6 linked regions of the Homo sapiens genome follow. The protein of the gene in region 6 purifies or fractionates together with the protein of the main gene of each other region. This does not show direct contact. Each region holds a gene or a part of one and is shown on either strand. Other genes may lie near its edges. The genes, in order: REPS1, BMP2K, STON2, PIK3C2A, HIP1R and WNK3.

Region 1 (3,500 bases), on a different chromosome or scaffold from region 6:
GAGGAGGATGGGGTGAGGATGCAGGTAGTAGATGTGTGAGGGAGAGGAGGAGGGGACGAGGATGCAGCTATGTAATAGATGTGTGAGGGAGAGGAGGACAGGCGAGGATGCAGGTCATAAATGTGTGAGGGAGAGGAGGACGGGGTGAGGATGCAGCCACTGCACCGAACCTCTAAGTGGTTAGTCTGGGAAGTCTTCGTGGTTGGGAGAAGGGAGGCATCCACCCAGGGGAGTGAGTACGGTACCCTGTGCACACCTCTACATGCCCACTCTGACCCTCCTAGATGCAGCCCAGTCCCCTAATGGGCACGGCAGAAAGTTGTAGGTTTTAAAAGGGAGCTAGTAGGAAATTTTCCATGGCTATGACCTATAAGAAAGAGATTGCAGAATTCCTCTGGTCTCTCCAACTCCACATTTATGCTCAGCAATTTAGGTCAGAGATTCCTAGAGAGGTTCTTGCCATTGGAACTACAATAGAATATCCTAGAACACTGTGAATATTAAATTTTGGTATCCTATAGTCTTTGCTTAACTAAGGCAACTTACTCTCATACAAATTTTAAATGCTTTAATTAGAAGTTTGGCTGAAATTTGTTTTTAGTTAAAGTTGTAATTAGATCTAAAAGTTACATATAGTGAAATTCCCCTTGGGGAAAAGTTGCAATGAGTGGAGCTATGGTAACCATGGCCTCTTATGACAGGGAAATCTTCACCAAATCACACAGACAGATGCTTAGCATTAAGATGGAAACCCCCAAAGCAGCGTTTTAGCCACGGCCAGGCGGTGGTGTCTTTGCATGTGATATCAATCCCCCACCCCCACCAGACTCTGATACTTAGTAAGCATTACACTGCAACCAGCAGATATTGGAGGCCAATAAAAAAGATGAGAAGCACTGACCCAGGGAATATTTTACTCACTGATGTCCCCTCTAATATCTGCTCTGTTGACACAACATGGTATGGGAAGTGACTGCCTGCAGAAAATTAGCCAAGCCCTCGAAAACTGACCGGCAGGACTTCTGGATGTTTCTCGGCTTCATCATCTTGTTCGTCGTTTACATTTGATGCAGCAAATACTTCAAACTGACTGAAATCTGCAAAATTTGGTTGCTCTGGTATCTGCTGAGGTGAGGTACTAGTGTGAGTTATGAGGCCATCGGCATCCACTGGGCGATGCACAGCAGGACCAGGAGCCTGTGCAATGGTTCAGAACAGAGGAACACACATTCTATCAGCCTATCAGTGTCACAGAGTCATCTTCTTCTTCTTCGAAAACTTAGTATATAAAGATGACCTGTTTTATTATCTGTAAGTTCAGAGAGGTGTATTATAGTAACATTTAGCTCTAAAGAAATGATTAAACCATAAGTGAAAAGCTAAGACACTAAAAAAAAAATTAAGATGATAAACCTCCAATAAAAAGATATTTTTTTTCAAAAACTGTATTGCAAAGAAAGTACAATGAAGGAGAGGGTAGGTCTGGCCCTACCCCCATTCTCCACTTGCATGTGTTTTTTTCTTAATTGGACTAATGCACAATAGTTTCTTCCTTAAATAAGTTATTTTTTTTTAATGTTTCACTGTTTCTTAAAAAGCTTGCTCTAAAAAGTGTGAAAACCACTGCTCTATCCTCCCAACATGTCAGGAACACTTCCCTTCAATTCATCTTCCACTCCTTTGCCAGCCAGACCAATGCTGCTCCATCTTCAGTCTAAAAATATGTTTACTGAATATGTACTTGTGAACAAAACAAATGAGGCCCACTTATACTCTAATAAAGCTGACAGTCCGGAGCAGGAGAAGAGAATAAGTAAATAAGAAATTAAAATAGAGTGTGAGATGTTTTATGACAAAGGAAGTAAAGGATACTAAAGAAAGAAATCTGAAGTCTCTTCCCTTTAAAAATTCTTCATCTCCTCTAAGAAAAAGTCTATCCTTCTTACTACGATATGGACAGCTTCATTTCTCATCACTCCACACATCTACTCCTGTTGTGCTGAACTAACTTGTTTTCCCCTGAGGAATGTGCCAGGCTTAACACAAACCTCCATCGCTTTGTGGATGTCATACCTTCGGTTTGGAATACCTTTTCCCCAATAAATTCCACTTTATCTTTCAAGTCCCTGCTAAGTCTCATTCCTTCATTTCATGTATAATGTGATCCTTAACTTTAGCCACTAAGGCTGTCCCAAAGCATTTTATAAATGTCTACTACAGCACTCTAATTTTGATGTGGAAGGGATGCAGAGGTCATTATACTTCCTTAACTCATGTGGTAAACACATCCAGAGAGATGCAGTGAGGTTATTTAGGGGTATTTTGTTTTGTTTTGAGACAGGGTCTCACTCTGTCATCCAGGCTGGAGTGCAGTGGTGCAATTACAGCTCACTGCAGCCTTGATCTCCCAGGCTCAAGAGATCCTCCCACCTCAGCCTCCCAAGTAGCTGGGACTACAGGTGCACACCACCACACCCAGCTAATTTTTTTGTTTTGTTTTTAGAGATGGGGGTCTCACTATGTTGTCCAGGCTGGTCTGGAACTCCTGGGCTTGAGAAATCCTACTGCCTTAGCCTCCCAAAGTGCTGCAATTACAGGTGTGAACCACTGCACCCAGCCTGGTGAAGTGATTTTGTGAGTCACTGCTAGACCCAGGACATTAATGGATATTTCCTATCTCCCAATCCATTGTTGTTTCCACTAAACTCTTCTCTGTCAAGACATTATCATTTGTTTCACTTTTAAGGCTCTTTCAAAAAATAACTCAGATCATTCTTGAAATGTGCATCTTTCAAAATGAGATTCAGCCTCACTGAATTAAATGCTCATTAAAGATTACCAACAGATCATTCCTGACCTTCCAAATAATTTGAGAATAGAATTAAATACCTAGCAGGCAAAGTGATCATGGGACATTTAGTAATAAATACCTTGGAGAATTACCTGTGAGGGCTGTGGTCTTGGAGGCACTGCAGGAGGATGGGCAACAACTCCAGCCTGTTGTTGTCCTGCATGAATACAAAAGTTCTTCTTTTTAGTAACTGTATAATCACTTTGTTAATAGAAGAAATAGGCTGAATGAATGTGACTACATGATAAAGATTTCTAAGAATGTTTGTTAAGTATTAGAAGGCAAGTACTAACTTGTTACATGGTCTGTATGTAACCTAAAGACCAAATCTCACAGCCTTTCATCAGATCTCACTTTGCTTCTTACCTCTATTACATGAAGCCCTCCTGGCATACTCCTGCCTATTCCCATAATAGCAAACAATCTTGATTTTCTTCGTGTATCTCTGACTGCTGTTTAGGTATCAAATGAAAACTTCCAAATTTTCCCTTTCACTTAACACTTCACTTTTCCTCACCATTCTAAACTCACAGTGACTAAAACATAACTTCATCATCCTCTGCCCTAACTTTTCTATTTTAACCAAGGTAACAACAATACTGCCAGTTCTTCAAAAATTAAAAACCTGGGTAAGTTATGACTCTTCTTC
Region 2 (3,500 bases), on a different chromosome or scaffold from region 6:
TGATTATTATGCACTGTATACCTGTATCAACATATCTCATGTACCCCATAAATGTATATACCTACTATGTACCCACACACAAATTTTAATGAGCATAATTTTTTAAAAAATGAGTAAGTTGGAAAGTGAAGAGGAGTACTAAAAATTTTGTTTGGAGACATTAAGCTTGACATATGTGTGAGACAACATTTAAGTGTACAGCAGTTAGGTATCTGTGATTTGAAACCAATGGTTAGTTTTTGGCTGAAGAAAATAGATTTGGGAGTTATCACCATGCAGTTGGTATGCAGAGAGAGCCACAAGACTAAAGGGCATACCTCGGAAGAAAACATAGAAGAAAAGAAGATCCAAAACTGAGCCCTCAGTATAAAACATTCAGAAGTCAGCAGAGGAAGATGAACATACAAAACAAACTACAAAGTAACAGCCAGAGAGGAGGAAGAAAACAGCTGAGTGCAATGTCACAGAAATGGAGAGAGAAGAATGTTTGAGGGAGGTAACAGACAACTGAGCTGGATGGTGCAAAGAGGTCCAGTAAACTAAGGACATAAAATGGCCACTGGATCTGGTCATCTTGTATAGTTTGTTGGCAATGTTGACATGAGTAGTGGTGCTAAAGAATGTGTGGGAGACAAGTATGTGAAGAATACCACCAGGTTATACTTAATTGCAAATATAATCTTCTGTCAGTTCCTTAAAACCAGCCAAGAGCTACATGCTGTATTTGTTATCCTTCCAGATTAAAAGCAAATCAAATGCAGATTCTCAAGTTTGACTTCTTCCCTACACAGCGTATTTATGATATTAAAAACAAAGTTAATTTTAGTGAATTTATTTTTATGAATTTTTATTCAAAAGCAAAATATGGGAAGAAGGGAAAAATGAAAATAAAATATGTACGGTTCCAGAAGATTTCCCATCATCCCTGACTGTGAAACGTTTAACGTATTACTCCTCGAGCTGCATACCCACCCACAGCCACAACATTCACACCTCACGCCTGCTCACGGACACCTCCAAGTAACATTCCAATGTTGCCCAAAGTGTATTCTGCAGAGGCTATTTCCCTAACAAGAACCAAGACAAACAGTTCTGTGGTCTCAAGCAAACAAGTCTATGAAATGGTGCACTCTGCATTCTGCCTCCACTCCTACTCACCTGGAGTATGCTCATTAAAGGTGCTAATGAGTCCTACACAAAAGAATCTAATTTTATGAACCCTAGGATTTCCCAAATTGTCTTCACTACCCTTTTATTTACATGTAATGCCTGTTAACCTTTAAAACCAACTATGCAAAAGTACTTTGGGGAAATGCTGCTATACAACTTATCTTGAAATTTTCCATTTCTAGTTGTGTTCCTGAAGGTCTTCTGGAACATTTAACGTAGGACAGATAATTCATCTTGGAGAGTGTCACTTGGAAGTGAATTTAAATTCGCCTTCTTTTTAAAATTATTACATTGTACTCCCTAGTCTTCTTAAAATTTACTGTTTTCATTATTCAACTGGCTACCATTACTTTTCAGAAGACATCTGTCACTTTATACTTCTCATTCTGTTGGCCCTTTGTCCATTTATCAAAGTTGTATTAATAGAAATACACATTTATAATTGTCAGTGTGGGTATAAATCTGTGGGTTTTTAACTTACTATTTTTAATGCATCTTTTCAGGTATCAACAGTCTATTATTTATTCTGATAGAAATATGATAAAATATTCCATATATAACTGTTCACTATTTAGCAATAGAATATTTAGGTTGTTTCTAGTTTTTCGGCATTTTAGATACAACCATGATTCATGCACTTTTTCCTTCAAGGAGTAAAAAGGAAACCCTCCTTTTTTAGTATCAATTTCACTTTATTTATATACTATGATTCCCTCCTCATGGGTAATTAACACAGCTACTAAAGCTAACCCAATAATAATCCTGACAAGGTCACCACTATTCCACTTTCTTTATACACAAAATGGGATAACACATTTTATATCATAGAGCTATTGTGAAGAAAGGACTTAGAACGGTGCCTGAACACATAATAAGCACTCTACCATCATCATGTCCTGGGAATGGCCAAATTCAATTATTTTATCCATCATACCCAATAAGCTTCTAGTAACTTTTCTGGGCCCAGTGGTTGCAGGTGAATATAAATGAGGGAGAAGTGTAGGGAGAAGCAAGTCTATGGCTAATTCAAGAGGAGCTGAGATCCACTTCAGAACTGACCAGAAGTAAGTAGACCAACAAATGTATATCCACACAGCATAAGGGTACATTTTAGATCCTGGAAATTCTATTTTTGATTTTTAGACAGCTATATTTGAGAACACAGTATAAGAAATGGAAACACACTTTCAAAAAGAGCAAGAAAAGACACAATCATCTATACCACCTTTGTGCTTTCAGGTTACATCTGCAAATAGTACGGGCAACTGGGGAAATTTTCTGTTGGTGTAGATAGACTGGTTTTACTTATTTTGCCCCCCTACATAAAACTAAAATAACAATCAAAAATATTTATCCAAATTCCTGTTTTCTCCCATATTCTTGCAACCCACACTGACATTGTTTAAATATTTCACTCTACACTTTTACTGCTGTTATAAACTTATAAAAAGTAAAGAGCAGTAATGAGGCTCTCTGAAAGCATACTAAGACAAACTATTAATCCTTTTATCTCTCCAGTACCTCCTGCTGAGGAAAAGTTAGGTTCCAGGCTGCAAGTTACCACAATCCAAGGTAAGTTTCTGCAGTAGCAGTGATCTACTTAATCATCTATTCATCATGAAACTACAGAAGAGCTGGGAAAGAAAGGTGAATTACACAAAAATAAAAAGTATTTCAGTATATTCTAAGGCTTTCAGTCCTATTCCATAGACATAAAAGACTGTCAGAATAAGTATTTTAAGTTATAAAGTTGGTTATAACTATACAATGCACAGCACTTTAGAATGTGACCTCTAGCTAAGAATGCCATAAACCTTCATACTCCATTTCTTTGCCTAAACATATTCCTATAATTTAAAAAAAAAAATTTCAGATCTTCCCACTATTTGTGTCTGGGGCCAGATTCCCACTAGTTGTTAGATTAAATAATACACATTTGATTTACTATGAAATTTAATCAGGATTATTTCACTGCTAAAGTTAATTTCCCAAAAGTATAAGCCTAAATATGTTGCTTTATAATTCAATATACCCTAAATCCTAATAATCCCCATATTTACTGAGATCTGTATTATTAACATAAAAATAGCTGTTCTTCAAGTAGGTGGGAGATGGGGGTATAATATTTAGAATAAGCACTAACAACATGTATTTACAGCATTAAAAACTGTGTAGATGGTGCACAGAATCATAACTCATTTACATTATTTTAGTATACTGTGAAATTTCATATATTCACCCACTGTTTTTATTTTTGGCTCTAAGTAATGTATTTCTTCTTTTTCTTTAACTAAATATGGTAGAATGATATTTTGATGGTTTCTAGTCAA
Region 3 (3,500 bases), on a different chromosome or scaffold from region 6:
AGGGAAATGTTTGAATTCAATTAATTTCTAGGGATTCTATTTTCTTTCTGACAGTCATTAAAAAATATCAAAAGACTTTGTTACAAAATTATCTTCCCTTTGGCAGTTTCATGTCCCATAATTGCATGTATTTTTAAAACTTATTCTCTGGGATGGTAGCAGGGCATAGGTAAAATTTCTGAAATTGAGATTTTGTTTTTCTATGAAATAATTTATTTAAAGAAATCTGAGAATTGTAAGAAATAAATTCTAAGAGTTTATCCTAAGGAAATAACAGGACAAGCATGCAACGATGTACACAGTGATGTTTATTACAGCAATGCTTCTATCACAGAAAAACATGAAAAAACCTGAATGCCCAACAATGGGAGACTAGTTACATCAGTGGTCATACCCTTAAAATGAAATTCCATGTAGCTGTCAAGATGATGCTCTTGATGCATGTTAATTCACACGGAAGTTGACTAGGACATATTGTTGAGTGAATAACAAGAAACACCTAAAATCTGCAGTCAAATTGCCTGCGTTTCAATTCCATACCTACGGCTTTTTAGATATGTGATTCTAGGCAAGTCTTAAATTTCCCTCTATCTCAGTTTTCCTATATATTAAATTAGGGAAATATTAAATCCTACCAGACAAATAATAAATGCTCAGTAGATGTAGGCTGTTCTTAGTACTACTGCTACTACTACTACTACTACTAGAATGATAATGTGTCATTATAGAAAGTACGTATGTATTAGAAAGCTTTGGAATATAATAATCTCGTAATATTTTGATGTGAAAACAAATCTCTCATGGGATAAGAGGTGATTTAAAAAATTCGAAATCTGTATTCTTTCTTTCAAAAACTGCAATGTTCCTTACAAAATAAAGCAACATAGCATTATAATAAAAGTTCAAAACATCTCTTTATTATTACTACTAATTAGCCTTAGAGAAAGGAAACAAAGTGCTTAGCTATAGTCTGTATTGAGAAAGCAGCAGTTAGATCTTTCCCAAGACAATTATGACTGGTGTGGCTGGGACTGGAAACAATGAGAGGGGGAAAAGCTGGCAAATTTCTCCAGTAAGAAATAGGCAAAAACCAAGTATCTTGATCACAAAGCTAATTCTTCTCCACAATTCAATTTACTAATTTATTAAAATAAAACCAAAACCCAAACTCCAGCATTATTTTAATTACTATCCCTTCCACTGGCTACCTCCAAATTGTTTTTATTATGAGTCGGGCTGCTGCCAAACAAAAGCCATGTGTAAGGATTAGGTTCTCAGTCTACACCACAGGGAAAATTTCCAGTACCTAAGAGGTTCCTAGTGTCTTTACTGATGCAAACTAAAGAGAAGTGGTGGATTCTTTTAATGTTAGGCCGCAATCTATTTCAAGCTCCTAAAAGATTAAATTAAATAAAGTGATTTCAGTAGTAGTCAAAGCCACTAAAACTGAATAAAAAGTAAGAACTATGGCAGGAAAATTGTCTACATTTTGAACATAGAGACTCTACTATCTTCTTTCCCTTATTTGTTAACCTAATTTGTAAAAAAACCATATTGACAAATGTTCACTGGAATTTATTAGGAGTGGCAAGAACAAATGTTCTAACATCACTGCAGGCTTCTAAACATGCAAGAGCAGTGACTGTTACATAACAGCATATAAAGGCATACCTCGTCTTTTTGTACTGCACTTTACAGATACTGCATTTTTTTTTTTTTTTTTTGAGATGGAGTCTCGCTGTGTTGCCCAAGCTGGAATGCAGTGGCGCTATCTCGGCTCACTGCAAGTTCCGCCTCCCGGGTTCAAGCCATTCTCCTGCCTCAGCCTCCTGAGTAGCTGGGACTACAGGTGCCTGCCACCACGCCCGGCTAATTTTTGTATTTTTAGTAGAGACGGGGTTTCACTGTGTTAGCCAGGATGGTCTCGATCTCCTGACCTCATGATCCGCCCGCCTCGGCCTCCCAGAGTGCTGGGATTACAGGCGTGAGCCACTGTACCCAGCAGATACTGCATTTTTTATGACTAGAAGATCTGTGGCAACCCAAAGTCTGTCAGCACCATCTTTACAACAGCACGTGCTCACTCTGTCTCTGGGTCACGTTTTGGTAATTCTCGCAACATTCAAACATTTTCACTATAATTATATCTGTTACAGTGATCTGTGATCTTTGATGATACTATTGTAACTGTTTTGGGGCACCATAAACTGTGCCCATATAAGATGGTAAACTTAATCAATAAAATGTGTGTGTTCTGGGCTGCTCCACAGTCTGGCCATTCCCCTATCTCTCTCTCTCTCTTCTTCAGGCCTCCTTATTCCCTGAGACAAAGCAATATTGAAATTAGGCCAATTAAGAATCCCACTATGGCCTCTAAGTATTCAGATGAAGAGTTATATGTCTCTTACTTTCAATCAAGAGTGAGAGATGAGTAAGCTTAGTGAACAAGGCATGTCAAAAGCGGAGACAGGCCAAAAGCTAGGCCTTCCATGCCAGTTAACCCAGTTGTGAATGCAAAGGAAAACTTCTCAAAGGAAATTAAAAGTGCCACTTCAGTGAACACATGAATGATAAGAAAGTAGTGACAACATTCTCTTAAGCCAGAGCCTAATTCAGAGGAAGGCCCTACCTCTCATCAATTCTATGAAAGTGGAAAGAGGTGAGGAAATTGCAGAAAAAATAAATAAATAAATAAAGCTAGCAGAGGTTGGTTCATGAGGTTTAAGGAAAGAAGCCATTTCCATAGCATAAAAGTAGAAGGTCAAACAGCAAGTGCTAATGTAGAAGCTGCAACAAGTTATCCAAAATATTTACCTAATATAATTGAGGAAGGTGGCTACACTAAGCAACAGATTTTCACTGAAGATAAAACAGCCTTTTACTGGAAGAAGATGCCATCTAGGATGTTAATAGCTAGAGAAAAGTCAATGCCTGGCTTCAAAACTTCAAAGGACAGGCTGACTCTCTTGCTAGTGGCCAATGTGGCTGGTGACTTTAAGTTGAAGCCATTGCTCATTAACCATTCAAAAAATCTTAGCACCCTTAAGAATTATGCAAATCTACCTTGCCTGTGCTCTGTCAATGGAAGAACAAAGCCCGGATGACAACGCATCTGTTTACAGCAGGAATTACTGAATATTGTAAGCCCAGGTTGAGACCTACCGCTCAGAAAAAAGAGGTTCCTTCCAAAAATATTACTACGCACTGACAATGCACCTGGCCACCCAAGAGCACTGATAGAGATGTACAAGGAGATTAATGTTGTTTTCATGCCTGCAGCCGTGGAACACAACATCCATTCTCTATCCCATGGATCAAGGAGTAATTGTGATTTTCAAGTCTTCTTATTTAAGAAATACATTTTGTAAGGCTGCCATAGATAGTAATTCCTCTGATGGATTGGGGCAAAGTAAACTGACAACCTCCTGGAAAGGATTCATCATTCTAGATGCCATTACAAACATCTGTGATTCATGAGAGAAGTTAACATTCACAGGAGT
Region 4 (3,500 bases), on a different chromosome or scaffold from region 6:
ACTGCACTACAGCCTGGTGAAAGAACGTGACTCCGTCTCAAAAAAAAAAAAAAAAAAGAAAAAAGAAAAAAAAAAAGAAAAGCTTTCCCTAAACCTACGTTTTATGTTCCCTTAGCTAAGTTTTCCCTTAAGTTGTTCTCTGTGCATTGAAATAACACTATCCTTAACACCTCATCATCTTCTTCTTCCTATAGTAAGGATTTACAATCTAAACTCTTTACTCAAAAATCTTGTCTAATTAACTCTTATCTATTTTCCATTTGACTATATTATCCCTTACATCTTTTCTTTCCCGTAACAAATTTTTTTAAATAACTGAAGTACTTTTTGCTACATGGATTGTAGTTAGTTGGTCTCTCCTAGTTGGAATATAAACTTCCCAAAGGCAGGAAGTAACTATTTCTTTATACACTCCAAAAATCTGGTTTGTACTATGTATCTAAACACTCAAATGCCATATGAAGAGATTCAATGAAAAGAATACTGGGGCCCGGGGCGGTGGCCCACACCTGTAATCCCAGCACTTTGGGAGGCAGAGGCGGGCAGATCGCCTTAGGTCAGGAGTTCAAGACCAGCCTGGCCAAAATGGTGAAACCCCATCTCTACCAAAAATACAAAAATTATCCGGGCATGGTGGCATGCACCTGTAATCCCAGCTACTCGGGAGGCTGAGGCAAGAGAATCACTTGAACCCAGGAGGCGGAGGTTGCAGTGAGCTGAGATTGCGCCATTGTACTCCAGCCTGGGCGACAAGAGTGAGACTTCATCTCCAGAAAAAAAAAAAAAAAAGAAAGAAGGAAGAAAAGAAAAGAATACTGGGGTGGACGTGGTGGCTTATGCCTGTAATCTCAGCGCTTTAGGAGGCCAAGGTGGGCCCAGGGGTTCAAGACCAGCCTGGACAATGTGGCAAAACCCCTCCTCTACAAAAAACACAAAAATTAGCCAGGCGTGATGGCACGTGCTTGTAGTCCCAGCTACTTGGGTGGCTAAGGTGGGAGAATCACCCAAGTGTGGGAGGCAGAGGTTGCAGTAGGCTGAGATGGAGCCACTGCACTCCAGCCTGAGCGACACAGAGAGAACCTCCCTCAAAAAAAAAAAAGAACAGAACACTGGGCCTAGCATTGTTAAGACCTGAATTCAAGCAATGCTTCTAATTTATTATGCTAAGTAAGTCACAACATCTTTGGGCCTCAGCAAAATCAGAATACTTGCTGTATTTACCTCACAGGTAATAAGGTCTTGGAGGGAAAACAGTGTTAGCTAAGCTATAACCATCAGTCAATCCAAGTGTAAAGATGTATTATTGTCAGTCATAGCTATCTTGTCTAAAATTAGCCACTAGTGTTTTTTAACCAAGCTCAGTGCACAGCAAATTAAGTGCACCAACATTGCACATCAGTCATATCAATAATGTAACTGTTATACTGTAATACTAACAGAAAGCCTTATGTTTAACAGTAAGCATGTTAATTATACACTATCTTAATGCAGTCTCAAGGTTAAAAGATAAATACTTGTTGCTAAGCCAACAATAACTGCCTTCAAATCTATTAAAAGAGGATTTATAAATCCCATTTGTTTTTGTACCCAAATAGCTAAGTTTAAAATTTTAAGAAATCCAAGAATTAGTTTAAAATTGTATAAATTCTCCTTTTAACTTTCTAAAATGTCCATATGCACTCTCATTGTGTTTTAAATCCATTACATTAGAAAAACAGACTGCAGGCCGAGTGCAGTGGCTCATGCCTGTAATCCCAGCAGTTTGGGAGGCCAAGATGGGAGGATCGCTTGAGGCCAGGAGTTCAAGACCAGCCTGGTCAACATAGTGAGACACCATCTCTATTAGAAAAAAAAAAGAAGAAAGAAAAAAAGAAATAACATACTGTAGAAAAAAAGGATACAAAGTATACATAAATGAACAAAATAAAGATAACAAAAATATGACTCCACTACAGATGCAGAGAAAACAAAGACATTTCTTCTCATCCCAACCATAATCCTATGAACAACCTGAAAGATACTTACAGCAATATTTGCAAGTATGACCATAATTCTCATCAAAAGAACATCATATATGAGTACCATCAAAATGATTACAAATTATAAATTACCAGTGATAATTTTCTCATTGGAGTCCCTTTTCCTTTTTCAAGCAGAGAACCAAGACAGAATAGCCTCTAGATCTTTTTTGTGGTGGTGGTTGTTTTTTGAGACAGTGTCTCACTCTGTTACCCAAGCTGGAGTGCAGTGGTGATCATAGCTCACTGCAGCCTCAAACTCCTAGGCTCAAGAGATCCTCCTGCTGGCAGGGTACAGTGGCTCACGCCTGTAATCCCAGCACTTTGGGAGGCCGAGGCGGGCAGATCACAAGGTCAGGAGATTGAGACCATCCTGGCTAACACCGTGAAACCCTGTCTCTACTAAAATAATATAAAAAATTAGCTGGGCGTGGTGGCGGGCGCCTGTAGTCCCAGCTACTCGGGAGGCTGAGGCAGGAGACTGGTGTGAACCTGGGAGGCGGAGCTTGCAGTGAGCGGAGATCACGCCACTGCACTCCAGCCTTGGCGACAGAGCGAGACTCCGTCTCAAAGAAAAAAAAAAAAAAGAGAGATCCTCCTGCCTCGATCCTCCAAAGCACTGGACTATGGGCATGCATTAATGCACCCAGCCTCTAGATCTATACTGTCCAATATGGCAGTTACTAGTTACATGGAGCTATTAAGTGCCTGAAATGTGGCTGTTCCAAATTGAGATGTACCAAGTGTAACATACACCAGATTTAAAAGATTTAGGGGAAAAAAATAATGTAAAATCTCCTACCTATGTGACTCCCATTTTTGGCTCACATATTTCTCATGTACAGCACTGCTTTATATATGTAGTCGAATCCTGAATAAGGAAAATGGATACCAGAAGTATTAAGCAGTTTGCTCAATATCTCACCGCTTGATAGAAGCAGAGCAGGGCCTAGAACCTGATCACGTTTATCCATCCTGCCCTTATGAATAGAAGGAATTAATCATTTAAGACTCAACTTGAGCATCCTCTTCCTCCTCAAACCCCCTCATTCCTTTTCCATCTCCCAGCCCAGGTGACCATATCCTATTTAGCCTGCCCTTATAATTATACTGTTATAAAATGTACGTTGTCTTCCAAATGGATGAGAAATTCTTGAGAGCAAGCACTGTCTCATTCATTTTTCTTATCCCTGGGAACCTTTGAAGTACCAGGCACTCTTTCAGGCCCTCCGGCACTCTCAGAGCTTTGAGAGGGTTAATTTTTAGCCCTATGCAGGTACAACTACTAAAATGAAATCACCTACAATGTGATGCACCACCAGAAACATCCACATTTATCATTTGCCTGTCTTAAATTATTTTTGGAATATGCTAAATTAATACAATGCATAGGCCAGGCGCAGTGGCTCACACCTGTAATCCCAGTACTTTGGGAGGGCGAGGCGGGCGGATCACTTGAGGTCAGGAGTTCAAGACCAGCTT
Region 5 (3,500 bases), on a different chromosome or scaffold from region 6:
TCACCCAGGCCTGCTTGGTCCTGGCCACTCCGTCATTTCAGCGTTTAGGAAAGCTCCCGAGGGGAGCATGAGAGCCCAGGTTCCCCAGGACACTGGTTACAATGTTGCCGCCTGACCCACTGCCACCTCCGCCCCAGGCTTTGTGGGTGACACCCAGTAGTAGGAGGACTGTTCCTGCGTCACCCCTCTGCCAGGCTGGCTCTGGAAGTGACAGGCAGCCAGGTCGTGCAGTTTCATTCCCTGGGCCCTGGTGACATCACTCCACAAACCCGTCTGTCCCAAAAGCCAGGAGCCTGAGTCACCTCCAAGCAGATGAACCTACTGCAGTTTGAGGATCATGTTTATTTTAGCCAGAGAAAAAACAATCTCGCCCCAAATAAACTTTTCTCCAGGCCTCAGTCATTCCCTAGAATGGATGGCCATGAGCCTTTCAGACCTCACCAAGAAGACAGCATCAAAGAAGGGAGACCACTGGCCCCTGAGCATCCACTCATCCAGCCACTTACGACGCGGCCCTGCCTGATGACCCCAGGGTAGGTGGCTGGTGCAGGTCTGAGCAGTTGCTCAGGGAACTCGGCAAGGAGATGACACACTCCCACTTCTCAGGCGAGCCTGGTCTACACATGCGCCCACCCCATGTCTGTCTGCTTCCTCCCGCTCTGCTGGGCCAGCCACAGCGTGTCAGGGCAGATGTGGAAGCAGCGCAAATAATGTCATGAGGACTGGGCAGCACAGAGAGGCTTGGGCAGGAGGACGGCAGCGGGTGGCTGCACAGAGGAGGTGATATTCAAGTTAGCATCGCAGATTACCAAGTTGGGCGGGGAGGGGGCGGGTAAGGGCATTGCCAACAGAGCAGCCAAGGCGTCTCAGGTTAGCCGGCTGGGTATCCCTGTCCCTTGGCCAAGCAGGCCTGGACTCCACTCAGAGGCTTTCCACTTTAAGCTGCTGGGATCCAGTGGCCAGCTGGGTTTCATTCGCGAATGACCGGTGCAGCGCTGGCTGGGAGGCTGGCTTCTGGATCAGGTCAGAGAAGGGGCCTCGTCTGCGCCTGTCCCTATTCAGAGGGTGAGCAGTTCTGCCAGGCAAGGCTCCTGCTGGCTTTGTCTGCACCTCCTGAGGCTGTCGTCCCCCAGAATATCCTCCCAACCCTGGAGAGCCTTCATAATGTGGCACCTCTGGGCTCACTCTTCCAGGGAAGGGCTGTCCCCACCTGCCTGAGTCCCCCCAACCTCTGTGCAGATCCACTTTTCTCCCCAACCGCCCCAGCACACAAGGCCTCCGCTTACAGCTAATCTAAGGGCACCGGGCAGAGCTCAACAGGGAGCTTGTTTCTCTCTTTCAGCCCAGCCTGCTCTTCTGAACACAACATAACAGCCAACACTTACACGGCATTCACTACACACCAGGCACTATGAACACCTGTAAATTTCTTCACAACCACTCCAGGAGGTGTGTAGTATTATTGCCCCCATTTTGTAGATAAGGAAACTGAGGCAGAGTGGTGAAGGGACAGAGCCAGGGGCTGAACCTGGAGCTTGCTCTTGACTGCCCTACCATTCCACACGTGGCCACAGTTGGCATCTCTCCACCTCTTAGAGGGTACAAAGATGACTCGGACCTTCCTGGGGCACACCCCAAAGCTACAGGAACAGGCCAAATGGTAAGACAGCAAGCGGCGCTCAGGAATGTGTCATGGGCATCAAAACACATCAGAGACAGGGAGGGGGAGGTCAAGGATGGGTGGCCCCTTCCCACCCCAACCTGGACCAAGAACAGCCTCTGGAATAGCTCTGCCAGGGAGGCAATATGCAGCCCAGGGGTCGGGAAGTCAGCGGCCTGCCGGGCATCACCACGAGGGCATCACCATGTGGGCTGATGGGGTGGAACCGAGCAGAGGATGTCACGGGGCGAGACAGCAGTGCGCATGCCCAGGAACAACGAGCTCAACGCCCATGCCATGCTGCGGGCAAATCACTCCTATACACGTAAATGTTGCCCTTTTCTAAAAGCCACCAGGTGATTCTAACACTTGCATTGTCCGGCACGGTAGCCGCTGGCCGGTGCGGGCTGTGAGTATTGGAAAGGTGGTGAGTCCAGACTGAGATCAGCTGTGAGTGTCCAGTGCATACCTATTTCAAAGATTTAGTAGGAGAAAAAGAATGTAAATTCTCCTATTCATAATTTTTGTGGCAATTACATGTTGAAAGGGCTAGCTTTTGGATATACTGGGTTAAATAAAATATGCTATTACAGTTAATCGCACCTGTTTCTGTTGACTTTTCTAGTAGTTACTAGACAATCTAAAAGTACACACGTGGCTTGCCTCTGGTTCCTCCTGGACAACACTGCTCTACTGTGTGCCGGGGCTGAGAAGCCCTCAGTTGTCAATAAATGTTAATCTTGACAGGATTTTGGTTTCACGGGGGATGCTAAGCATGTATGTCACCAACCTGGAAAATTGGACCTATGAACTGTTTCCACATATTGCTGCCCTAGACAGTCCCTGCCCCACAGGAACCCCTTACACCTGGGTAGTTTCATGTCTACAGTTAATGCTCACCCGCCAGACTTGGCTCACTCAGCAGTGGCCAGAGGCCTTGCAGTGTAGTAAAGGGTTTCTCTCATCCTAACCTGAGAGGAATCTTCTGGGCTTGATCTCCATCCTGTGGGCCTGCAGTGGAAACTGAGGCCCAGTGAAGCAGAAAGGTTCACAGATCAGGAAAAGGCAGGACTCACCATTAGCATTTCCAGTACTCCTAACTGAGTCCTTCTTCATGATATGCTTCAAAGATGCTTTCTTCTCTAGATGTTAAACTTTTCAGCCGAGGAAGGGAAGGGAGAAAGACGGTTGGGCCAAGTATCTGCTGAGGCCCTTCTATGCCCTAGGTGCTCTTTCATGTTTACATACTGGATGTATTAGTTCCTTATGGCTGCCATAACAAATCACACAAACTCGCAGTTCTGGAGGTCGGAAGTCTAAAACAGGTCTCACAGGACTAAAAGCAAAGTGTCAGAAAGGCTGTGTTTCCTCCTGGAGGCTCTAGGGAAGAATCCATTTCCTCGCCTTTTCCAGGCTGTGGAGGATGCCCATACTCCTTGGCTAGTGGCTCCTCCCCAGCAGCAGGCAGTGAGTCTTTCTCACATGGACTCAGTCCGACCTCCTCTCCTGCCTCCCTTGTCCACATTTAAAGACCTTTGTGATTACACTGAGCCCACCTGGTAGCCCAGGAGAATCGCCCCATCTCAAGGACCATCTCAGCTGATGAAAAACTCTAATTCCACCTGCAACGCCTTACTAAGTCATTAACGTAGTCACAGGTTCTAGCTGCCACACGGTCTCTCTCTTACACCTTACAACAGCCCTATACGATAGCTGGAACGATCTGTATGGTTTTTTTTTCAGACAAGGACATAGATTTACAAGTTAAGCAACTTGCCAGGGACACAGGCTAGAGCCTAGGTCTATCTACCTACTAGTGCCTTTATGATACCACACCCTC
Region 6 (3,500 bases):
TACATTTGTGTACATGTATTGTCATATGTGTACATGTATAGTCATATAGTTTGTTAAAGAAATAATGCATTTATTGTTAATATTGAATAAAAATTTTCAAAATCCTCGATTTCCCAAGCTAGTGAGCAGTATATCTCCTTGGGAGCTCTGTGTATTTATCTTACTTGTGGCACCAATTTATACACAGATAGCATCACCATTGTAAAAATTGGAAGCCTTTAGAGGCAAATTTCAAGACATAAATGCATTTGTACTGCCAGTGAGAGAACCTCTGAGTACTGTGTGAATGGAGGCTTTTGTTGACTAGTTGGAGGGCTGTTTACTGGAGTATAATGGAGGATGTTTGGAGGAAGGGTGAGTAGAAAATGGTGTGTGAATAAAAGTAGTGAACGTCATTTAACAGACTTGGGTTCCAATGTCAGCTCAGTCACTTACTAGTTGTGTGACTTTAGAAAAGTCATTTGATCTATCTGTGCCTCAGTTTTCATGTCTTTCAAACAGAATACCTGCCTTACAGGATTGCTGTGAGGATTAAATGAGATAACACCTATAAAGCTGTACCTTTATAGGTGTTACATAGTAGGTACCCTATATCTAGTAACTATTTTTGTATTTGTAGGTTCAGTTGGTTATATCTTTTGTGTGGCAAGCCCATCTCACTAATGCTCTTACATTGTATTGCTCTGTATCCTTACTCAGAAATACTTGTTTGCTTAACAGTTATGTACCAAGCCCTCTGTTAGACATGGGTTTGGTGAGTAAAAACAAGTATGATCCCTATCCTCATGGAATTTATGCTCTGCTAAGACAGCTAGTTAGACATAACAGAATTGCATATACGAATATAAAATTGCAACCGTAATAAGAACTACAAAAGAAAGATATAGGCTATAATACGGGAAATTTGACCTAGTAAAGGAAAGTCAAGGAAAGCTTCACTGAGAAAGTGATGATTAAGCAGAGATCTGAAGGATGAGTAGGTGTTAACTAGGTGAAAAGAGGAAATGATTCCATGCGGAAAGGATCGCATACGCAAAAGCCCTGTATGAGGAAAGGAGCGTGAAGGGATTGAAAGTAGGCCAGTTTGGCTGAAGTGAAGAGAGCAAAGAGGAGTTAGTGCACAATGGATCTAAGGTAGATGGAGTCTTAAAAGTGGTAATGATAAGGAACTTCATCTGTATTTTTTGTTAGTTTGTTTGTTTTTATTTTTTTTGAGACGGAGTTTCACTCTTGTTGCCCAGGCTGGAGTGCAATGGCGCGATCTCTGCTCACTGCAGCCTATGCCTCCCAGGTTCAACAATTCTGCTGCCTCAGCCTCCTGAGTAGCCGAGATTACAGGCGCTCGCGACCATACCTGGCTAATTTTTGAGTTTTTAGTAGAGACAGGGTTTCACCATGTTGGCCAGGCTGGTCTTGAACTCCTGACCTCAGCTGATCCACCCGCCTTGGCCTCCCAAAGTGCTGGGATTACAGGCGTGAGCCACCGCGCCCAGCCGTCTGTATTTGAAGAAAGATAAATAGCCATTTAAGCCCTAGGGTTGACATGATCAGACTTGTTTTTTGAAAAAATGACTCTGACTCAAGCAAGAGAAAAGGATTATTTATTGGAGGTAAGGGTAGATGTTGGCAGACCAGTTAAGAGTTAGTCATGGTAACTCTTAACTGGTCTGGAAAATGGGAGAAGTTGAGTTGAACAGAAGTGAACAGATTCCAAAAAATGCTTAAGAGATTAAATGGACAAGATTTGGTGATGGAATGGATGTATGGTGAAGGGGAGGTATTAAGGCTAGGTTTCTGGCTCCCATAACTGGATGCTATTCTAGTGTACCAATCACCGAGATGCGGAATGTGAGCAGACAGTGTGCTTTGGTAGGGGAAGATCACACATTTGATTTCTAGGCATTTGTTTCTGAGATGCCTTTGAAATATCCAGGAGAAAATGTATAACCTCTCCAATTTGTCTTTTTTTAAAAATCAGGTTATCTATAAACTAATAATGTTCATTATATAATTTAATCAGTGCAGAAAAGTACAAAATTTAAAATATCACCTTCAAATCCCACCACCCAGAAATAATTTTCATTAACTTTAGATAAACATCATGTCAAATATCTTTCTATGTATGTATGCATGGAAATAACTATAAAAATGTAAGGCAGGGCAGTTATGAAGATGGCATTAATTAAGGTACATAATTATGGTTAGCACACAGAAAGGTGCTCCAAAAATGGTAGTCCCTAATAGTAACAATAGGAATAGTATGCCAAAAAGACTAGGAAGGAATATTCATTTGTGCAGCAGCAATAGAAAAAAAAAGAATAGGAAGGAATATAGACTGATAAAAGTCTATACCAAATAAACTGATCTTTTGTTTTTATTTTTGTTTTTCTTAGAATACTCCGTCTACTATGGGCTACACATCAACATGGATTTCTTCTCTGTCCCAAATCCGTGGAGCTGTCCCAACTTCCTTGCCACAAGGACTCTCACTCCCTTCATTTCCTGGGCCATTATCATCATATGGAATGCCTCACGTTTGTCAGTATAATGCTGTGGCGGGGGCGGGGTATCCAGTACAGTGGGTAGGAATTTCAGGAACAACACAACAATCTGTAGTAATTCCCGCCCAATCTGGGGGACCATTCCAGCCAGGGATGAATATGCAGGCATTTCCAACTTCATCAGTGCAGAATCCTGCCACAATCCCTCCTGGTCCTAAATGAATCAGAGTAGATGGTGATAAAAAGGGAGGTTTTTTCAGAATTATTTTCAGGACACCCAAGATATTAAAGTTTCTTCCTCTTGGGTTCTGTCATATTTTCCCTCATTTGAGTTTACTTTAGACTATATATTTTTTGTTCCAGTGTGGTATTTGATACAGCTCATCATTCTGTAGAAATGTGCAGTTTGCAGATAGAACACTGCACACAGAAATGTTTTTTCACTTCAAATTCTATCCTCTTTGATACTTGATTTTTTAAAAATACTGTTCAGAATGCTTTAATAAGCTCAGCTTGAGCATTACCATTTCCAGGACACTTTCCATGAATTGTTGAGAAGCTCCCCATCCCCCGCCTTTTTTTTTTTTTTTTTTAACTGCTGCTATCTGCAGCTGGATACTCTTCTTTAAAAATGTTTAAAAATTATTTAGATTGATTCTCCCCAAATGTGGATGAACTGAGACCCTCCATCAGCCAGAGTCTTATGGGATCTTCACTTCACATGTTTGTCTTAGGTTTACCTTTCACAGAAGGCAGGGTAACTTGCTGCAGGAAACGTTTTGGTGTATAAAATTAGAATCACTTTTTTTTTTTTTTTTGAGATGGAGTCTCTCTCTGTCACCCAGGTTGGAGTGCAGTGGTGTGATCTTGGCTCACTGCTGCAACCTCCCCCTCCTGGGTTCAAGCGATTCTCCTGCCTCAGCCTCCTGAGTAGCTGGGACTACAGGCGCCAGCCACCATGCCTGGCTAATTTTTGTATTTTTAGTAGAGGATGGGGTT

Evidence for each region.
Region 1: the proteins of WNK3 (region 6) and REPS1 purify together in Homo sapiens (affinity purification with mass spectrometry; one large-scale study listed by BioGRID and IntAct). This does not show direct contact.
Region 2: the proteins of WNK3 (region 6) and BMP2K purify together in Homo sapiens (affinity purification with mass spectrometry; one large-scale study listed by BioGRID and IntAct). This does not show direct contact.
Region 3: the proteins of WNK3 (region 6) and STON2 purify together in Homo sapiens (affinity purification with mass spectrometry; one large-scale study listed by BioGRID and IntAct). This does not show direct contact.
Region 4: the proteins of WNK3 (region 6) and PIK3C2A purify together in Homo sapiens (affinity purification with mass spectrometry; one large-scale study listed by BioGRID and IntAct). This does not show direct contact.
Region 5: the proteins of WNK3 (region 6) and HIP1R purify together in Homo sapiens (affinity purification with mass spectrometry; one large-scale study listed by BioGRID and IntAct). This does not show direct contact.

The regions. Positions count from the first base shown.
Region 1 is NC_000006.12:138,911,754-138,915,253, forward strand, and holds part of REPS1 (ralBP1-associated Eps domain-containing protein 1), read right to left. Parts: intron 3,009-3,500; coding exon 2,944-3,008; intron 1,198-2,943; coding exon 1,012-1,197; intron 1-1,011. UniProt on the Homo sapiens protein: May coordinate the cellular actions of activated EGF receptors and Ral-GTPases.
Region 2 is NC_000004.12:78,905,350-78,908,849, reverse strand, and holds part of BMP2K (BMP-2-inducible protein kinase), read right to left. Parts: intron 2,743-3,500; exon of another isoform or gene 2,689-2,742; intron 1-2,688. UniProt on the Homo sapiens protein: May be involved in osteoblast differentiation.
Region 3 is NC_000014.9:81,281,825-81,285,324, forward strand, and holds part of STON2 (stonin-2), read right to left. Parts: intron 1-3,500. UniProt on the Homo sapiens protein: Adapter protein involved in endocytic machinery. Involved in the synaptic vesicle recycling. May facilitate clathrin-coated vesicle uncoating.
Region 4 is NC_000011.10:17,201,487-17,204,986, forward strand, and holds part of PIK3C2A (phosphatidylinositol 4-phosphate 3-kinase C2 domain-containing subunit alpha), read right to left. Parts: intron 2,890-3,500; exon of another isoform or gene 2,821-2,889; intron 1-2,820.
Region 5 is NC_000012.12:122,838,457-122,841,956, reverse strand, and holds part of HIP1R (huntingtin-interacting protein 1-related protein), read right to left. Parts: intron 1-3,500. UniProt on the Homo sapiens protein: Component of clathrin-coated pits and vesicles, that may link the endocytic machinery to the actin cytoskeleton. Binds 3-phosphoinositides (via ENTH domain).
Region 6 is NC_000023.11:54,197,547-54,201,046, reverse strand, and holds part of WNK3 (serine/threonine-protein kinase WNK3), read left to right. Parts: intron 1-2,393; coding exon 2,394-2,723; 3' UTR 2,724-3,500.